Linked DNA regions of Homo sapiens: region 2 is linked to region 1. Evidence: fine-mapped expression QTL. A gene starts in region 1. The other region holds a variant in brackets. All regions are shown on one strand. Distances are from middle to middle. Region 1 holds the start of RBM15B (RNA binding motif protein 15B). Region 2 overlaps RAD54L2 (RAD54 like 2).

Region 1 (11,060 bases):
GATTTTTTTTTATCCTGTTAGTCTTTATTAAGCACCTACTATGTGCTAGGCACTGGGAATATCAGGGGAAAGAAGTGACAGTCGGACACACAAATAATGCAATGTCTGGGTGTCATGAAGAAAATGGACCAGCAGGTGCTGATTTAGAGTGGCCAAGAAGTCTCTGAGGAAGGGTTATCATTGAAGTGGGGTAAGACCATCCCATACAGGGAACAGCAGTGTGAGTGCCCAGAGGCCTGAAAGAGTGTGGCATGTATGTGGACAGGAGAAGGTGACAGGGTGCCTACAGGATAGGCAAGGGCCGAATCCAAGACAAAAGCCCTAGTGAAGCAATGGGTTTTCTAACTTGAATTTCTCTGACAGTCTCTGGCTTTTCTCTCTGTTAAAGGTTTGAACCCTGGTGACACTTAAATTCATTTGGTGGCTGTCAGCTTGGACTGAGCATGTGTTAAGAGTCCAGGGTTTACACTGGCTGAATCTGACTACCAGTACAGGCAGGGCACCGAAAAATGCCGCTGTGGGCCAGGTGCGGTGGCTCATGCCTGTCTTCCTAGCACTTTGGGAGGCCAAGGTGGGAGGATTGCTTGAACTTAGGAGTTTGAGATCAGCCTGGGCAAAGTGGTGAAATCCTGTCTGCACAAAAAAATTTTTAGGCTAGGCGTGGTGGCTCACACCTGTAATCTCAGCACTTTGGGAGACCGAGGTGGGTGGATCACCTGAGGTCAGGAGTTCAAGACCAGCCTGGCCAACATGGCAAAACTCTATCTCTACTAAAAAATACAAAAATTAGCCAGGCATGGTGACAGGCGCCTGTAATCCCAGCTGCTCAGGAGGCTGAGGCAGGGAGAATTGCTTGAACCTGGGAGGCGGAGGTTGCAGTGAGCCGAGCCAAGATTGCGCCACTGCACTCCAGCCTGGGTGACAGAGCAAAACTTTATCTCAAAAAAAAAAAAAAATTGTTTTAGTTAGCTGGGTGTGGTGGCCCACACCGGTAGACCCAGCTACTAGGGTGGCTGAGAGGGGAGGATCACCACCCAACAGATTGAAGCTGCAGGGAGCCGTGATCATGCCACTGCATTCCAGCCTGGGTGACAGGGAGCCCTATCTCAAAACACAAGTAAGGCCCTACAGAGAGATGATGTTTCAAGGTGTCAGTATGTTTGGAGGAGATGGCTCTCAAGCACCTCCTGAAGGCCATTGTCCTTTATTGCTCCAGTGCTACTATATCGGGGCCACAGATGATGCAGCCACCAAAATCATCAATGAGGTATCAAAGCCTCTGGCCCACCACATCCCTGTGGAGAAGATCTGTGAGAAGCTTAAGAAGAAGGACAGCCAGATATGTGAGCTTAAGTATGGTGAGTATGCCTAGTCCTTTCTTAATGAATGCTGTGCACCTTCTGGGTTTGTTTCCCATCTGGGAGAGGAAAATGATGAGCTAGAGTCATGAGTGGGTTGTATTGTATGACAGATGGTGCTAAATGCTGGAGGGCTCTGGCATGGAAGTGGGTGGAGGTCAGAATAGGCCTTATTGAAGAAGTGATATTTCAGCAAACTTTGAAGGAGGTGAGGATTAGCCAAGAGGCCAGCTAATGGAAGAGGATACAGGCAGGATAAAGGTGTCCAGTGGCATGGCAAGTCAGAGAGCATTGCAGGCTGGTGAGGGCTTTTAATCTGCGTGAAGTTAGGAGCATTAGGAGTTTTTCAGCAGAGAAGGGACATAGTACGACTTGGGTTTAACAGGCTGGTTCTGGCTGCAAGCTCTGAAGCCCCAGTGATTTTTACTATTCTGAAAAGAAACACTATGTCCAAGCATGCAAGCCCAAGAGTTAGGAACTACAGCATCTCTCTTGCTGACTGGGTCTCTGGTGTACATAGTCCCAGTCTTCAGAAACAGTCAGGGCCTCTTCTGAAAAACTTGAATGGCCAAGGACCTGTGTTCACCTACTTGCGTCTTCCTGGTACAGGTCCAGTTGGCTCCAGGTCACTGTGGTCATGGAGAGTAAGTTCCTAACTCAAAGGCCTGAGCAGGGCTGCTCTTTGGCACCAGCCTGGAGTTGTTAGTATGTGGTGACTATGTCAGAGGCACTTGGAAGATGGGAACCATGTTTCTCCTATAAGGACAGTGTGGCCTCTGTCCCTATCCTTGTTCACGCTGCATATCTGTAGTAGACATAATATGTAGCCAGCCTTCCTGGTGAAGAGGCTAGTTCCCTCTTGTGGGGGCAGTAGGCACTGACATGCCTGTAAATGTGTCTGGAAATGTCTCTTCCTCTGAAACCAGTAGGGCTGGTTTGGCCGTTCAGGGAGTGACATACTCTGGGACTACTGGGGGACTGCAGGTGCTCCACCCAGTCAGTGACTCTCCCTGCTCTCTCCTCCAGACAAGCAGATCGACCTGAGCACAGTGGACCTGAAGAAGCTCCGAGTTAAAGAGCTGAAGAAGATTCTGGATGACTGGGGGGAGACATGCAAAGGCTGTGCAGAAAAGTCTGACTACATCCGGAAGATAAATGAACTGATGCCTAAATATGCCCCCAAGGCAGCCAGTGCACGGACCGATTTGTAGTCTGCTCAATCTCTGTTGCACCTGAGGGGGAAAAAACAGTTCAACTGCTTACTCCCAAAACAGCCTTTTTGTAATTTATTTTTTAAGTGGGCTCCTGACAATACTGTATCAGATGTGAAGCCTGGAGCTTTCCTGATGATGCTGGCCCTACAGTACCCCCATGAGGGGATTCCCTTCCTTCTGTTGCTGGTGTACTCTAGGACTTCAAAGTGTGTCTGGGATTTTTTTATTAAAGAAAAAAAATTTCTAGCTGTCCTTGCAGAATTATAGTGAATACCAAAATGGGGTTTTGCCCCAGGAGGCTCCTACCAGTTTCTGCTTTCCAGTTGCAGAGTTTGGGGGGTTATTCATTCCCATTTATCTCTCAACCCACCAGTGCTGAAAATACCAGAGCAGGACATAGGGGCTGGGGCCAGCTGATGTGTGTGGGTGTGTACCACTAGAGGGCAGCAGGCACTCAGCAGAAAGGAGGTGGCGGGGGCGGGGGGTGCTGCGCTTGATACCCTGCCCCTTGATACAGTATCTGTCTTACCCGCCCAAGAGAGCTGGAGGCCACAGCTCTAGGAGGAGTGAGTCTGGGATACATTGGAGGGCCTTATATTGTGGCTCAGTACAAGCAAGACAGGGTGTCTGGAGTGTGGTTTTTCCACAAGGATATCTTCAATCAGTGCACGTCAGCACTGACATCTCTATAAAGATGCTGTTGGCCTGGCCACCTACTTGCTCTTTTGTCCATTCCAAGCCTCTGATGTCTGTTCCAGTTTTTGCAAGTCTGGCAGGAGTCAGCTTATACAAAGAGGGAGTGGGAAGCTGCCTTTTGCCTTTGTTTACCCTAGATTAGTCTAACAGTTGAGGTCCAGGGTTTTGCTGGAGTCTGCTTCTTAAGCCACTCTCTGTGGCACTGGTGCTTAGGAAACCCAGTTGTTAGTGTGAGCTGTGGCTCAATGAAGACACCTGTAGAAACCACCTGAAAGGACGGACTAAGAACCAGTGCTTTCCAAGTAATTGGTCTTGCCTCAGATCACTTCACTTGTGTCTCCTAAGCTCAGTTTGCCTGTAGGAGGCCTTGCTGCTGTGGAACCCATTGCTTTCTTCCAAGACCTTTCCCCCTGCACCTGCCTGAGCTACTCCAGGAGCTGCTTTCTCTTTGTGCGAAGAGGGCATGACTTGGTCTGCTCTTCCCCATCGCAAGGATTCTGTGCCAGAAATTGGGTCAGGTTCTACCATGGCTCCAGCAACTGTCCTTGGAGAATGAAAGCTTCCTCAATGGGCTTGAGCACCTGGGCACCCTTTCCCTCACCTCACCTGGGGAGAAGAGGTCGTCCTGAAGGTGATGAACAGGAGGGTACTGGCCAGCGAGGGGTCAGCGTGGCAAGGTGTGATAACTGCTGGCACTATCTGTGCATATGGCCTCTTCATCCTTGGCTCTTACGGCCCTACCTTTCCAGCCTGCTATCTGCCCACAGAAGAGGGTGGGACCCAAGAGTGGCGTTAAAGAGTCTATTCCAACTCCATCAACTGCAACTGCAGGCTTGTCTCTGCTTTCGGTTATTACCTGCGTGACAGCAATTGTCCTCACGGCCTTTTCGGGGACTGCTGCAGGTGAACCTGCACGTGGAGAATGCGCAGAATGTGGGCCTTGGGTCCTGGGCAGGGTCTAAGGATAGGCATGCATTAGTCCTTGGCGCCGTCAACGCCGGATCCCAGGCAGGAGATGCCAACGAGGGTGATGTGGGGTTTGCTCAAGCCTAGTCCTAGGACTGAGGGGATACTACATAAAGAGACCACTGACTGGGTCAATGCCCCAGATCCCAACGGCCATGGAAGCTGCCACTCCTGCTCCAATCAGCGCGGGCTCCAGTGCCTGCAAGAGGAGATAGCTGGACCCAGAGCGGCAAAGCACGGCTGGGAGCACAAAGCGTTAGGTCGTCTCGCCGGCCTCTCAGGGTTCACTACACTCCGCGTAGCCTCAAGCATCGGCCATGCGGGCCGCGCGGTGGCGCCAGAGCGCGCGGCCGGTCCCACTCACCCAGCACTCACAGGGTCACCTGGCACTGGGCGACGCAGCGCGATGAGGCAGGCCCGGCGCGGGTCTTGCTCCGCCCGCCGCAGAGTCACGTGGCAGGACGGCGCACCTTGATAACGCAATGCCCGGCCCCTCGGCGCCGCTCCCGCCCCGCCCCGCCGCCACCGCCGCGCCGAGTCCTTTTGTCCAAGATGGCGGCGCCGGGGGCGCTGCCTCCTCGGCCGCCGCCTCCGCCGCCGCCGCTGTGAGAAACCTACGGGCCGCCCGCCCGCCGCGCCAGCGCCATGAAGCGGCAGAGCGAGCGAGACTCTAGCCCGAGCGGGCGCGGCTCGTCATCGTCCGCCAAGCGTCCGCGGGAGCGCGAACGGGAGGCGGAGGCGGGCGGGCGGCGGGCGGCGCACAAGGCCTCTGGCGGCGCCAAGCACCCGGTTCCAGCGCGGGCCCGCGACAAACCCCGCGGCAGCGGAAGCGGCGGGGGCGGGCATCGCGACGGCCGCGGCACCGGGGACGCGAATCACCGCGCGAGTAGCGGGCGCTCCTCGGGCTCCGGCGCTGGCGGCGGGGGACGCGGCGGCAAGGCCTCGGGGGACCCGGGCGCCTCCGGCATGTCGCCCCGCGCGTCTCCTCTGCCGCCGCCTCCGCCACCGCCTGGGGCCGAGCCCGCGTGTCCCGGCTCATCCGCGGCCGCGCCTGAGTACAAGACGTTGCTCATCAGCAGCTTGAGCCCCGCGCTGCCCGCCGAGCACCTCGAGGACCGGCTCTTCCACCAGTTCAAGCGCTTCGGCGAGATCAGCCTCCGCCTGTCGCACACGCCTGAGCTGGGCCGTGTGGCCTACGTGAATTTCCGGCACCCACAGGACGCACGCGAGGCCCGCCAGCACGCCCTGGCCCGGCAGCTGCTGCTCTACGACCGCCCGCTCAAGGTAGAGCCCGTGTACCTGCGTGGCGGCGGCGGGAGCAGTCGGCGAAGTAGCAGCAGCAGCGCCGCCGCTTCCACGCCTCCCCCAGGGCCGCCCGCGCCCGCCGACCCGCTCGGCTACCTCCCGCTACACGGAGGCTACCAGTACAAGCAGCGCTCGCTGTCCCCCGTCGCTGCCCCGCCCCTGCGGGAGCCCCGTGCCCGTCACGCCGCCGCAGCCTTCGCCCTGGATGCCGCTGCTGCCGCCGCCGTGGGACTGTCCCGGGAGCGGGCCCTGGACTACTACGGGCTGTACGACGACCGTGGGCGCCCCTATGGCTACCCAGCTGTGTGTGAGGAGGACCTGATGCCCGAGGATGACCAGCGGGCCACGCGCAACCTCTTCATTGGTAACCTGGACCACAGCGTATCTGAGGTGGAGCTGCGAAGGGCCTTCGAGAAATATGGCATCATCGAGGAGGTGGTCATCAAGAGGCCTGCCCGTGGCCAGGGCGGTGCCTATGCCTTCCTCAAGTTCCAGAACCTGGACATGGCCCATAGGGCTAAGGTGGCCATGTCGGGCCGAGTGATTGGTCGCAACCCCATTAAGATAGGCTATGGCAAGGCCAACCCCACCACTCGTCTCTGGGTGGGTGGCCTGGGACCTAACACGTCACTGGCGGCTCTGGCCCGAGAGTTTGACCGCTTTGGGAGCATTCGGACCATTGATCACGTCAAAGGAGATAGCTTTGCCTATATTCAGTACGAGAGCTTGGACGCAGCCCAGGCCGCCTGTGCTAAAATGAGGGGTTTTCCCTTGGGTGGACCAGACCGCAGGCTCCGCGTGGATTTTGCCAAAGCAGAGGAGACTCGGTACCCCCAGCAGTACCAGCCCTCGCCACTCCCTGTGCATTATGAGCTGCTCACAGATGGATACACCCGGCACCGCAACCTGGACGCCGACCTGGTGCGGGACAGGACGCCCCCACACCTTCTGTACTCAGACCGAGACCGGACTTTTTTGGAAGGGGACTGGACCAGCCCCAGTAAAAGCTCTGACCGCCGAAACAGCCTTGAGGGCTACAGTCGCTCAGTGCGCAGCCGGAGTGGTGAGCGTTGGGGGGCAGATGGAGACCGTGGTTTGCCCAAGCCCTGGGAAGAGAGGCGGAAACGGAGAAGCCTTTCCAGTGACCGTGGGAGGACAACCCATTCACCATATGAGGAACGGAGTAGGACCAAGGGCAGTGGGCAGCAGTCAGAGCGGGGCTCCGACCGCACCCCTGAGCGCAGCCGCAAGGAGAACCACTCCAGTGAAGGGACCAAGGAGTCCAGCAGCAACTCCCTCAGCAACAGCAGACATGGGGCTGAGGAACGGGGCCACCACCACCACCACCACGAGGCTGCAGACTCTTCCCACGGGAAGAAGGCAAGAGACAGCGAGCGCAATCACCGGACCACAGAGGCCGAGCCCAAGCCTCTGGAAGAGCCAAAACACGAGACCAAAAAGCTGAAGAATCTTTCAGAGTACGCTCAGACACTACAGCTGGGTTGGAATGGGCTTCTGGTGTTGAAAAACAGCTGCTTCCCCACGTCTATGCATATCCTAGAGGGGGACCAGGGGGTGATCAGCAGTCTCCTCAAAGACCACACTTCTGGGAGCAAGCTGACCCAGCTGAAGATCGCCCAGCGCCTTCGACTGGACCAGCCCAAGCTTGACGAGGTCACACGACGCATCAAGCAGGGGAGCCCCAACGGCTATGCGGTCCTCTTAGCCACCCAGGCAACCCCCAGTGGGCTTGGCACTGAGGGGATGCCCACAGTAGAGCCCGGTCTGCAGAGGCGGCTTCTCAGGAACCTGGTCTCCTACTTGAAACAGAAGCAGGCCGCAGGGGTGATCAGCTTGCCAGTGGGGGGGTCCAAGGGCAGAGACGGCACAGGCATGCTCTACGCCTTCCCACCCTGCGACTTTTCCCAGCAGTACCTCCAGTCAGCACTAAGGACATTGGGCAAGCTAGAAGAAGAACACATGGTGATAGTCATCGTCAGAGACACTGCCTAGCCCAAGCCTGTCTTTCCCAGCGTCATGTTTGTGTCACAAAAGCAGTTATTTTAAAATCTGATCCCCTCTCTACCCTACCACTTTGGTTTGAATTATCTCCTGGGTTATTTTGGTTCATTTGGGTGGGGATCAAAGTCCTGTCCACCACCAAAACTAAGTTCTTAGATTTTGGGGGATTTTTTTTTTTAAACGATGAGAAGGGAATCCGGTTATGTTGATTTCTAGTGTACAAGATACTGTCTGCTGTGGTTCTGTATTTTTTTATTTTTTGACCAACTGTATGGAAAGTTGTCAGTAAAACCTTTGACAGAGGATGGATTTTTAAACCTGTTCAGAGTCCTGGTTTAATCAATCAAGCTAAAAGAATCGAAGACATCCCTAGTGCATGTACACGAATGCCCTACGTCATCCTTCCAGCACCACTGCTGCATGGGTCACTCTCGGCCTCTCAATTCTTCAGGCTCAGTCTGGACTCTACTTACACTCATTTTTATCTTGGCTGACAGCAGGCAAGCTTCAGTTTGGGCTGTGGACGCTGCCACACAAGCCTGAGTAGAGCCCATGCAAAGGAAGGGATGGGGTGAGCGCAAGGCCTGTGGTCAGCAGCTACTGATGGTTTTTTCTGCCTTAAACCGTGTGTGTGTCCATCATCATCAGTTTGAGCTGTGGCTGTTTGTTTGGGACAGAGTGCCCACTCAGCATGTTTGGCAGCAGGTAGCCTTCAGCAGCTGTGTAGTCTTGTACAAGGAGAAGCTGTGCACTGTTGATGCCAGGGGGTCTCGGGGCCCCTGATCTGTCCAGGCTCCTGGTTCGGCCTACTTTCTAGCCTCACTCAGCCCAGGGATAGCCAGTGTTGGGAGACAGAGTTGCCTCAGGTTCCCAGGGGCCCGGGAGTCCAAATACTGGAATGGAGGGTTGGAGGCAGCCTTCCTTGGATTTACTCATGAACTTTGCCTAGTTGTTTGTGATTTTTGGCTTTCTCTGGTCGTTCAGGGGTGATGGGTAATAGAGCAGGCCCGTGTCCAGTCATACCTAGAGATTTGTGGGGGGATACTGAACCTCTAGACTGAAGTACTTACCGGGGAGCACAGTGGACTAGGGGATGCCCTTGATAATGACGGTTTCCTAGGTGCAAGATCAGAGCATGTGCCTACACCTTGTGCCCTGATGCCGAGGTGGAGACCATTGGGAAATAATTAATAGATATTTTTCTGGGGGGAAATCACAAGTCACTGAGGTGTTTGTTTGTTTGTTAGGCAGTGCTAGAGCTTGAAGCCACTCAAGCCAGTTGGGGAGGAAAGGGATGCGGAGGTACCCTCTAGCTGGGAAGAAGGGTGAGATTCCGTCTTCTTCCCTGTCTCAAGTAAGTAAGGAAGGTACTGCGGACAGTGTGGGCCAGGGAGGAAAACCAGAGCACACAGTTTTGTCACCATGGAACACCCCAAATGCCATTCTTCAGCGTGTCTGGTACCTTGGATGTTCAAACAGGGAACACTGTCAGGGCTGAGGAGAACAGAAGCTCTGGTAAGCGAATGAGCCCCTAGATGATAACCAGGAACTCCAGGTTCTGCTGGCCGTGGCATCCTCTCTCCAGGTCTGCTCCCTTACCGGAGCTAGGATAAGGTAGCATGAGTGACACCTGAGATTAGAGGCTGGGGCTCACTGCAGGCTGTGGAGAGGTCATGCTGGTCCACAGGAACACTTGGCAGTGCTCTCGTAGACCCCTCGGTGATGTGGAATGGACAGGTGCCTCGCAAGAGAGCAAGCACGTTCATAACAAAACAGCAACACAAAGACATGTTAAGCATGTTTATTTATTTGCCTGTTTTTGTTTTTTTACTTGAGCTGTGGTCACAGCTGCCAGGTACCTAAGCAAGTCAGTTGGGTACAGCAGGACACGCCACCATTCCAGGGTAGCTGGTACCGCCAGAAACAGGAGTGGGTCTTGTCCTGTTGCAGGCACACTGCAGTGGTTTTCCTGCAGCTCTCCAACAAACGCCTGAGTCACAGGCCAGAGCTGCCTTGGTATGTTGTTAAGTCCAAAACTTCTTCTCTGGGCTACCTATCTTCCTTCATGAAGCAGGTGCTCAGGACCCGGAAGAATCATCTACCTCCCAGCTTTGTGAGACAGAACCAAGTAAAAGGAAACATGCTAGAAAACGTGCCTAGAGAAGACACTTCAACCTTTGCCTTATCCAACCCCTCTTCAGAGAAAGGTGTCCCATGGCCCCAAAAAGAACTGCCAAGTTTTGGTGAGGAGTAACACCCTGGCATGACATTCCTTCTCTTTCCTGGCCCTCAACCACTTCCTTCCTTTGGCTCTTAAGACCTAGCAGGTTCTGTGAACTCTCAGGCCTTGGCCAGCACTAGTTAGGGGAGGTCAGGTGGTCAATGTCCTGGTGATTTTATGAGACTGCCCCACTGAGAAAACTTACTTACTTCAGGCATCCAGTGCCCCCACCCAGGGTTCAGGCCCTGTCTAAGGTGTTGCTTAAAGACAAAAAGGCAACATGTGCCTCACTGGTGGTGTGCCACTGTTCTCATGCTGCCTCCTAAGTGACTCCGATTTTCAGCCCTGGTAGAATAAGGAAGACAGCTGATGCCTCCTTAGCCCCTTAGCACATGTTCCTAAGGTGTGTTGTCAAGCCAACCTGAATTCTGCCTCCCTGTTATAGTCCCTGTCTCCCCCACAGAGACCTGTGGGTGCTCCCAGCAGAGTTGAGACTGGCTCCGTTGAGTTAATGACTAGAATATAGTGCTTTCACTACTTGATTGTTAACCTGTTTTCTTCTGATGCCATCAGTACCAGCAGTCAGACTATTCCACTGGTTAAGTGTTTACTACCATTAAAGCGAGGCATGAAGCAAAGAGCTGAGTGAGTCCTCTGCTCTCCAGAGGACCAAGAAATACCTGTGTGACACAGACCCACTTCAGTGTGTACAGCAAATTCTATAGTGCTTCTGAGCCCAGCAGGGCTTTACCTGCCCCTGGAGAGTTTTAGCCGTCTTGTGTTTCTTGTTTACTTCACAACCAAATTTGTCCCCTCTTCTCTCTGTTAAGGGAGAGAAGTCACTTTAGCTGGATAATACCTATGTAACAAACTGAGCAGCTGTTATTTGGGCAAAATCAAAGGAAGAAAGAGACTATGGTCTTCTATTTATTGTGGGAAGGAAAACAGGGTGGGGCGGGTGAGTGAAAAGGTGGAAATCCCTGGTACCTTGCCTGGTGGTTACACAGTTTAACCATAGGCCAATTTTAGGGGCCTCTGAAGTATCTTTCTACAAACGCAGACAAGCTCCACTACCCCTAACCTGCCAGGATGCTCAAGTCCACTGTCACAATCCCTTTCAGAAAACATTAGTGGCCGCTGCCCCAGCTACAGAGACGGCCGAAATGCTTTCACTCCTTAGCTTTGCCAACTCCATCCTCCAAAACTTCCCAGAATACCTCCCTTTCCAGTTCTACCAAATCTGTACTTGGGAGCAGCCTGCTGGATCCAGAACATGAC
Region 2 (8,000 bases), 260 kb after region 1:
CACCTCTATGCAAATAAACTAGAAAATCTAGAGGAAATGGATAAATTCCTGCACCCATATACCCTCCCAAGACTAAACCAGAAAGAAGTTGAATCCCTGAATAGACCAACAACAGGCTCTGAAATTGAGGCAATAATTAATAGCCTGCCAACCAAAAAAAGTCCAGGACCAGATGGATTCAGAGCTGAATTCTACCAGAGGTACAAAGAGGAGCTGGTACCATTCCTTCTGAAACTATGCCAATCAATAGAAAAAGAGGAAATTCTCCCTCACTCATTTTATGAGGCCAGCATCATCCTGATACCAAAGCCTGGCAGAGACACAACAAAAAAAGAGAATTTTAGACCAATATCCCTGATGAACATCGATGTGAAAATCCTCAATAATATACTGGCAAACAGAATCTAACAGCATATCAAAAAGCTTATCCACCAAGATCAAGTTGGCTTCATCCCTGTGATGCAAGGCTGGTTCAACATATGCAGATCAATAAATGTAATCCATCACATAAACAGAACCAAAGACAAAAACCACATGATTATCTCAATAGATGCAGAAAAGGCATTCGACAAAATTCAACAGCCCCTCATGCTAAAAGCTCTCAGTAAACTAGGTATTGATGGAACGTATCTCAAAATAATAAGAGCTATTTGTGACAAACCCACAGCCAATATCATACTGAATGGGCAAACACTGGAAGCCTTCCCTTTGAAAACTGGCACAAGACTGGGATGCTCTCTCTCACCACTCCTATTCAACATAGTGTTGGAAGTTCTGGCCAGGGCAATCAGGCCAGAGAAAGAAATAAAGGGTATTCAATTAGGAAAAGAGGAAGTCAAATTGTCCCTATTTGCAGATGACATGATTGTATATTTAGAAAACCCCATTGTCTCAGCCCAAAATCTCCTTAAGCTGATAAGCAACTTCAGCAAAGTCTCAGGGTACAATATCAGTGTGCAAAAATCACAAGCATTCCTATACACCAATAACAGACAGAGAGCCAAATCATGAGTGAACTCCCATTCACAATTGCTTCAAAGAGAATAAAATACCTAGGAATCCAACTTACAAGGGATGTGAAGGACCTCTTCAAGGAGAACTATAAACCACTGCTCAACAAATAAAAGAGGACACAAACAAATAGAAGAACATTCCATGCTCAGAGATAGGAAGAATCAACATCGTGAAAATGGCCATACTGCCCAAGGTAATTTATAGATTCAATGCCATCCCCATCAAGCTACCAACGACTTTCTTCACAGAACTGGAAAAAACTAAAGTTCATATGGAACCAAAAAAGAGCCTGCATTGCCAAGACAATCCTAAGCCAAAAGAACAAAGCTGGAGGCATCATGCTACCTGACTTCAAACTATACTACAAGGCTACGGTAACCAAAACAGCATGGTACTGGTACCAAAACCAAAATATAGACCAATGGAACAGAATAGAGCCCTCAGAAATAACACCACACGTCTACAACCATCTGATCTTTGACAAACCTGAACAGAAACAAGAAATGGGGAAAGGATTCCCTATTTAATAAATGGTGCTGGAAAAACTGGCTAGCCATATGTAGAAAGCTGAAACTGGATCCCTTCCTTACACCTTATACAAAAATCAATTCAAGATGGATTAAAGACTTAAATGTTAGACCTAAAATCATAAAAACCCTAGATGAAAACCTAGGCAATACCATTCAGGACATAGGCATGGGCAAGGACTTCATGACTAAAACACCAAAAGTAATGGCAATAAAAGCCAAAATAGACAAATGGGATCTAATTAAACTAAAGAGATTCTGCACAGCAAAAGAAACTACCATCAGAGTGAACAGGCAACCTACAGAGTGGGAGAAAATTTTTGCAAACTACCCATCTGACAAAGGGCTAATATCCAGAATCCACAAAGAACTTAAACAAATTTACAAGAAAAAATCAAACAACCCCATCAAAAAGTGGTTAAAGGATATGAACAAACACTTTTCAAAAGAAGACATTTAGGCAGCCAACAGACACATGAAAAAAATGTTCATCATCACTGGCCATCAGAGAAATGCAAATCAAAACCGCAATGAGATACCATCTCACACCAGTTAGAATGGTGATCATTAAAAAGTCAGGAAACAACAGGTGCTGGAGAGAATGTGGAGAAATAGGAACACTTTTACACTGTTGGTGGGACTGTAAACTAGTTCAACCATTGTGGAAGACAGTGTGGTGATTCCTCAAGGATCTAGAACTAGAAATACCATTTGACCCAGCCATCCCATTACTGGGTATATACCCAAAGGATTATAAATCATGCTACTATAAAGACACATGCACATGTATGTTTATTGCGGCACTATTCACAATAGCAAAGACTTGGAACCAACCCAGATGTCCATCAATGATAGACTGAATTAAGAAAATGTGGCACATACACACCATGGAATACTATGCAGCCATAAAAAAGGATGAGTTCATGTCCTTTGTAGGGACATGGATGAAGCTGGAAACCACCATTCTCAGCAAACTATCACAAGGACAGAAAACCAAACACTGCATGTTCTCACTCATAGGTGGGAATTGAACAATGAGAACACGTGGACACAGGAAGGGGAACATCACACACTGGGGCCTGGCATGGTGTGGGGGGATGGGGGAGGGATAGCATTAGGAGAAATACCTAATGTTAAATGACGAGTTAATGGGTGCAGCATACCAACATGGCACATGTATACATACGTAACAACCCTACACGTTGTGCATGTGTACCCTGGAACTTAAAGTATAATAAAATTCAAACAAACAAAAAAACTTGACAAATGAGGTTCCAAAGGAAATTTTGGAAAACTTGCCAAATAAGTCTCATGTAAGGTTTTAGGTAAGACATTGACTTTTATGAGTGGATTTGTTGTCTTTTTTGGGGGTGGGGTACAGAGTCTCTGTTGCCCAGGCTGGAGTGTAATGGTGTGATCTCGGCTCACTGCAACCTTCGCTTCCTGGGTTCAAGCAGTTCTCCTCCCCTAGCTACCCAAGTAGCTGGGATTATAGGTGCACACCACCACGCGTGGCTAATTTTTTGTATTTTTAGTAGAGACTGTGTTTCACCATGTTGGCCAGGCTGGTCTTGAATTCCTGACCACAGGTGATCCACCTGCCTCGGCCTCCCAAGGTGCTGAGATTACAGACATAAGCCATCATGCCCGGCCATTTGTTGCTGTTTGTATAGCAAATTGAAGATACTTTTAAGTAGAAAGTCACTTTCTTACTAGACATGGTGGCACATACCTGTAGTCCCAGCCTCTTGGGAGGCTGAGGTGGGAGAATCGCTTGAGTCCAGGAATTGGAGACCAGCCTTGGCAACATAGTGGGACTCAATCTCAAAAGAGAAAGTCACTCTCTTTCAAAACTTTCAGGCTTTATTTCTGTCATTTCCCAAGATAGTATTGCTCAGGAATGGTCTCTTCTCTTTTCCTCCACCCATTCCTCCCTCTTTTTTTTCCCCCTCTTTTTTGGGCTTTTCTGTGTAACCTCAGGAGTGGACTAAACCTGAGCCCAGTGAGAGAAAAGCCACATGGAGAGAAGATGTGACAAATGGTCCAGACTAGCTATAAGGAGATGTCAGCTTTGTTTCTGGCTTAGCTCTGGCCCTGTGGGGGCACCAACTTCTCACAGCATTTGATGAGTTCATGATCCTGCTGAGTTTTTTTAATCCACATGGGTACATGTGAGGAATACTTCTTACCCAAATTCTTAGTCTTAGCCCCTGCAGGGTATGCGGCTTGGGCTGGGTTTCTGTTACATTGATACCTGACCAGGGCCTCTAACTCCTGCCAAACCATCCTAGGAAGACACTGGGGAAACAGGCCAGATAGCACAGGTCTGGGGCCCATCTGGGAACTTGGAGGTCCACAGGGACCAAGGGGCTGACCAAAGGGGCCTTTAAAAACCTAAGAGCAATGTGATTGAGGCATCATGCAGACCAGCTCCAACAGCAGAGTGGTATAAAAGTGTTATTTTATGTGCCAATCTTCAGTCAGATGAGGAAGAACATAACAGTCTTAAGGGTTTTTTTTTTTCCCCCTCCAGGCCCAAAGACGAAAGATGCAGACTTCAGAAAGCTTGTAGACAGGGACTTTTCAAAAATCTT[A/G]AATCAGTAGAAGCCTGGCTTTTGTACACACTGCTTTGGTGGCTGCTGCTTTTGTTGTTGTCATGACTGGAGGGGCACTTTGAGGGTTGTTCCAGGCTGGAGCTAGGAAGAACTCAATGAAAAGTAATACAGAAGAGAGAGAGAGGTGTCTGTATTACTTATTGAGACTCAAGGTTTCAGAGAGAAAGTAAAGATGTTTAAAGTTGGAACAGACTATTTTTTAGGATCACCTAAACGTGTCGTTACATGGCCCTTTTTCCGTGGGTGAGTGGGGAAAATTCTGCCCATCTCAACTTAACATACGCTGTGGTCTGGTGAACTTTTCCTGCCTTATTGCATCTTGACAGCTTCCTGACTTCCCTTTAGGGACTAACTCCTAATGTAGATAGTCCAGGTTCTAGAGGAGCAAATATTGTCTCCCATCTCCAGAAAGTATTATTCCACCAACATCTGATTCTCCTTAGACTTTGACAGACTTTATCCCTCTGCCTCTTTTGCTGCAACTGAGTCCTGCCTTCTAGTCTCCTTTTGAATTGACCAGACCCTGCAGATTCTTCTGATCCTTCTCTGAGCATCAACTGATGGTGTAGAATGGGGCAGCCTAGAAAGGCTCTGTAGCCTTTGGAAAAGGTAACAGTTGTTCTGCCAAACTCTTTTAGTGTCCTTGTCTTTCTCTTACAGGCAGCCAACTTTGAAGGGTGATGAAAAGCCTGTGGCCAGTGTTCGTCCTGTGCAGTCCACCCCCATCCCCATGATGCCCCGGCATGTCCCATTGGGAGGAAGTGTAAGCTCTGCCTCCAGCACAAATCCATCCATGAACTTTCCCATCAACTACTTGCAGCGTGCAGGAGTCCTTGTGCAGAAGGTGGTCACCACGACAGGTGGGAACTCCTGGGCTCTGTGGCAGAGCTGCTGTCCCTTTTAAAATTACTTTGTTCATTTAGGAAGTATCTATTAAACACCTTTTGTATTTCTGGCCTTACTACATTTGGCACTCTTGGTAAAAAATAGGGAAGACAACAGTCCCTGGTCTTGAGGAATTTGGATTCTAGTGAAATATCTTAAGAATAACAACACATAACTGGGTTTTCTTGGGTTTGGTGGGTGAGATAGACTCTGAGCACTGCAGGAATTGTGGAAATGTCACTGGAATACAGGGTTGGTCTCAGGTTCTTATAGAGGTGTGAATATGCTGAGCCCTGCCTGATTGTAGACCCATCTGGGTATAAAAGACAGCTGTCAACCTTTGTACATAATGAGAAGACCTGAATTGTCACTTGCGTCTACCTTTGCGAGTTTGATATAAATTGAGCATGGTGGGCCAGTCAGCAGTGGTGGCAGGTAGCCAACCCATCCACTCCAGGAGCTGGTTCTGTGATTCAGTGTGATTAGGAAGGAAAACATTTTGTGATCCTGTTTTTTATCTTGTTATTTAGCAATATTTATAATATATAAATTGATTATTATTTTTTTTTTTGGAGACAGAGTCTTGCTTTGTCACTCAGGCTGGAGTGCATGATCTTGGCTCGCTGCACTCCTGGGCTCAAGCGATTCTCCCGCCTCAGCCTCCCGAGTTGCTGGAATTACAGGCGTGTGCCACTATGCCCGGTGAACTTTTTTGTATTTTAATAGAGATGGGGTTTCACCATGTTGCCCAGGCTGGTTTCGAACTCCTGAGCTCAGGCAATCCACCCGCCTTGGCCTCCCACAGTGCTGGGATTACAGGTGTGAGCCATTGCACCCGGCCAATATATAAATTTTAATGAAAATATCTTAATTGATTTTTCTAAGTAAAAAATTTGAAACACATGAAAAGAAAAAGAGAGCGCCATATAATTCTATTATCTACTAATTCTTGAAAATACTGTTTCCCAGGTGTGGGGTAATGCCAGCAAGGAAGAAGATTAGGCCATTTTTGGAGCCTAAAGTGATGTGGCGCAGATGCGTGCAAACAGTTTGGGGAAGAGGAAAAAAATGCATAGAAACAACCATCTAAACTAAAACATTTTTCACACCAAAAACTATGAATTTCTAATTAAATAAAGGGAAATTGATTGCAACGATGACCAGCTCAGATTTCTGACAAAGTTCCTGTTTTCATAGTATTCTTTGTTTAGATAATTGTGAAAGATCCTGCTTGCTTCACCTTCCTTGGTTCTGGACCTCTGCCCCACTGAGAGGCTGTAGGGAAACCAATGAAGAACTGGGGTAGATGTGGGACTTTGCAATTTTCCCCCCTCCTTCAGTCAGGCCCCGTGCAATCTAAATTTAAGATCTGTGTTTTTCCTAGATATTGTTATTCCTGGACTCAACAGCTCCACAGATGTACAGGCAAGAATTAATGCTGGTGAGAGCATCCACATCATCCGTGGGACAAAAGGTAAGAGCCTGACCAAGGACCTGTTCCCTGCCTTTGGTTGAGAGTGCTGGGCTGGGAAGAAGAATAAATACATATGACTTGAGCTAGACGGGTCATAGGAATCATCCCATTAGGATGTCACATTCCGGAACTGAATGAGAAAATAGCATTTGTAGGAGCTTAGGGGAGTTGGGTTGAGCCCATAGGGTATTAGTCAGTGGTTTAAAAGAAGGAAATTAGGGTCCCTACATTTCTCTATCTTGCTGTCTTTTTTTTTTTTTTTTTTTTTTTTTTTGAGATGGAGTCTTGCTCTGTCGCCAGGCTGGAGTGCAGTTGCGTGATCTCGGCTCACTGCAACCTCCACCTCCCAGGTTCAAGCAATTCTTCAGCCTCAGCCTCCCAAGTAGCTGGGACTACAGGCATGCGCCACCACGCACAGCTGATTTTTGTACTTTTTTTTTTTTTAGTAGAGATGGGGTTTCATTATGTTGGCCAGGATGGTCTCGATTTCTTGACCTCATGATCCGCCCACCTGGGCCTCCCAACGTGCCGGGATTACAGGCGTGAGCCACCGTACCCGGCCCTTACTGTCATTTTTATGAGAATCTTGGGATGGGACAAGTAGACACAAGGAGACCAAAATTGGAGGGAAAGAGCGGTGGAATGGGTTATAAGCCTACATACATTTACCCACTTGCTTGGAGCAGGGTGGGGGTCCCCTGATAGGATATGTATTATGTGGATGAATTACACATGGGTTGCATGATAGAATTTTTGCATATGGTAATTTAAAAAGTCCACATCTGCCTCTGTCCTCCTTTCAGAGGGATATGAGATTGGTGGAATAAAAAAGCTGGGCTAAACAGTATTGAGACACAATCTAAGCCTGTTTTTTTCCCCTCTTTTCTGCACCCACGTCTTCTATCCAAGCCTGTTTTACATATTAGCCTTTAAATAAGCCCCATGATTGTGTGAGGCTCTTTGAGACTTTTTGTTCAGTAAGGAGATTTTGCCCTAGCTTCTATTGGGTTAGAGTACCTTTGAGGTTAGGGAAAAAGTGCCATGAAATACCCAGACTCATAGAAAACACCATTCCCAGCCTCCTTACTGGATTCTTCCTAGTCTAGAACCCAGCCCCCTTTACTGCTGTCTTCCTAGTTTATAGCTGGGGTCACCAAACTCTATGCCCCATGGGTCAAATCTAGCCTGCTACCTGTTATAATATCTGCGAGATAAGAATGGGTTTAACATTTTCAATTGGTTGGAAAAAAAAATCAAAAGAGTAATATTTTGTGACGTGAAATTATATGAATTTCACATTTCAGTGTCCATAAAGATTTTTTGGAGTACAGTCATGCCACGCTATTTTTGTGTTACAGCAGCAGAATTGAGGAGTTACAATAGAGACCTTATGGCTTATAAAGCTCTTACAAAAACCATCCGGCTCTTGTTTTTTTTTTTTTTTTTTTTTTTTTGAGGCAGAGTCTCGCTCTGTTGCCCAGGCTG

Evidence for each region. PIP is the estimated chance that this variant, and not a neighbour inherited with it, causes the effect.
Region 2: its variant is fine-mapped to the expression of RBM15B in whole blood (INTERVAL, PIP above 0.99).

The regions. Positions count from the first base shown.
Region 1 is chr3:51,386,521-51,397,580 of GRCh38, forward strand. It overlaps RBM15B (RNA binding motif protein 15B), which reads left to right and starts at 4,765. Exons shown (of 1, transcript NM_013286.5): 1 at 4,765-11,060. The coding sequence starts at 4,880. The coding sequence ends at 7,552. It overlaps MANF (mesencephalic astrocyte derived neurotrophic factor), which reads left to right. Exons shown (of 4, transcript NM_006010.6): 3 at 1,217-1,358; 4 at 2,385-2,877. The coding sequence ends at 2,569. It also overlaps a transcript of DCAF1 not described here. RefSeq lists enhancers at 4,239-4,288, 6,274-6,779, 6,780-7,287 and silencers at 4,609-5,088, 5,129-5,208, 5,319-5,378.
Region 2 is chr3:51,651,155-51,659,154 of GRCh38, forward strand. It overlaps RAD54L2 (RAD54 like 2), which reads left to right. Exons shown (of 23, transcript NM_015106.4): 20 at 4,817-5,016; 21 at 6,426-6,515. Among named protein-coding and RNA genes, the nearest start is that of TEX264, 16 kb to the right of the region's middle. The variant A/G (reference allele first, on the strand shown) is at 4,136.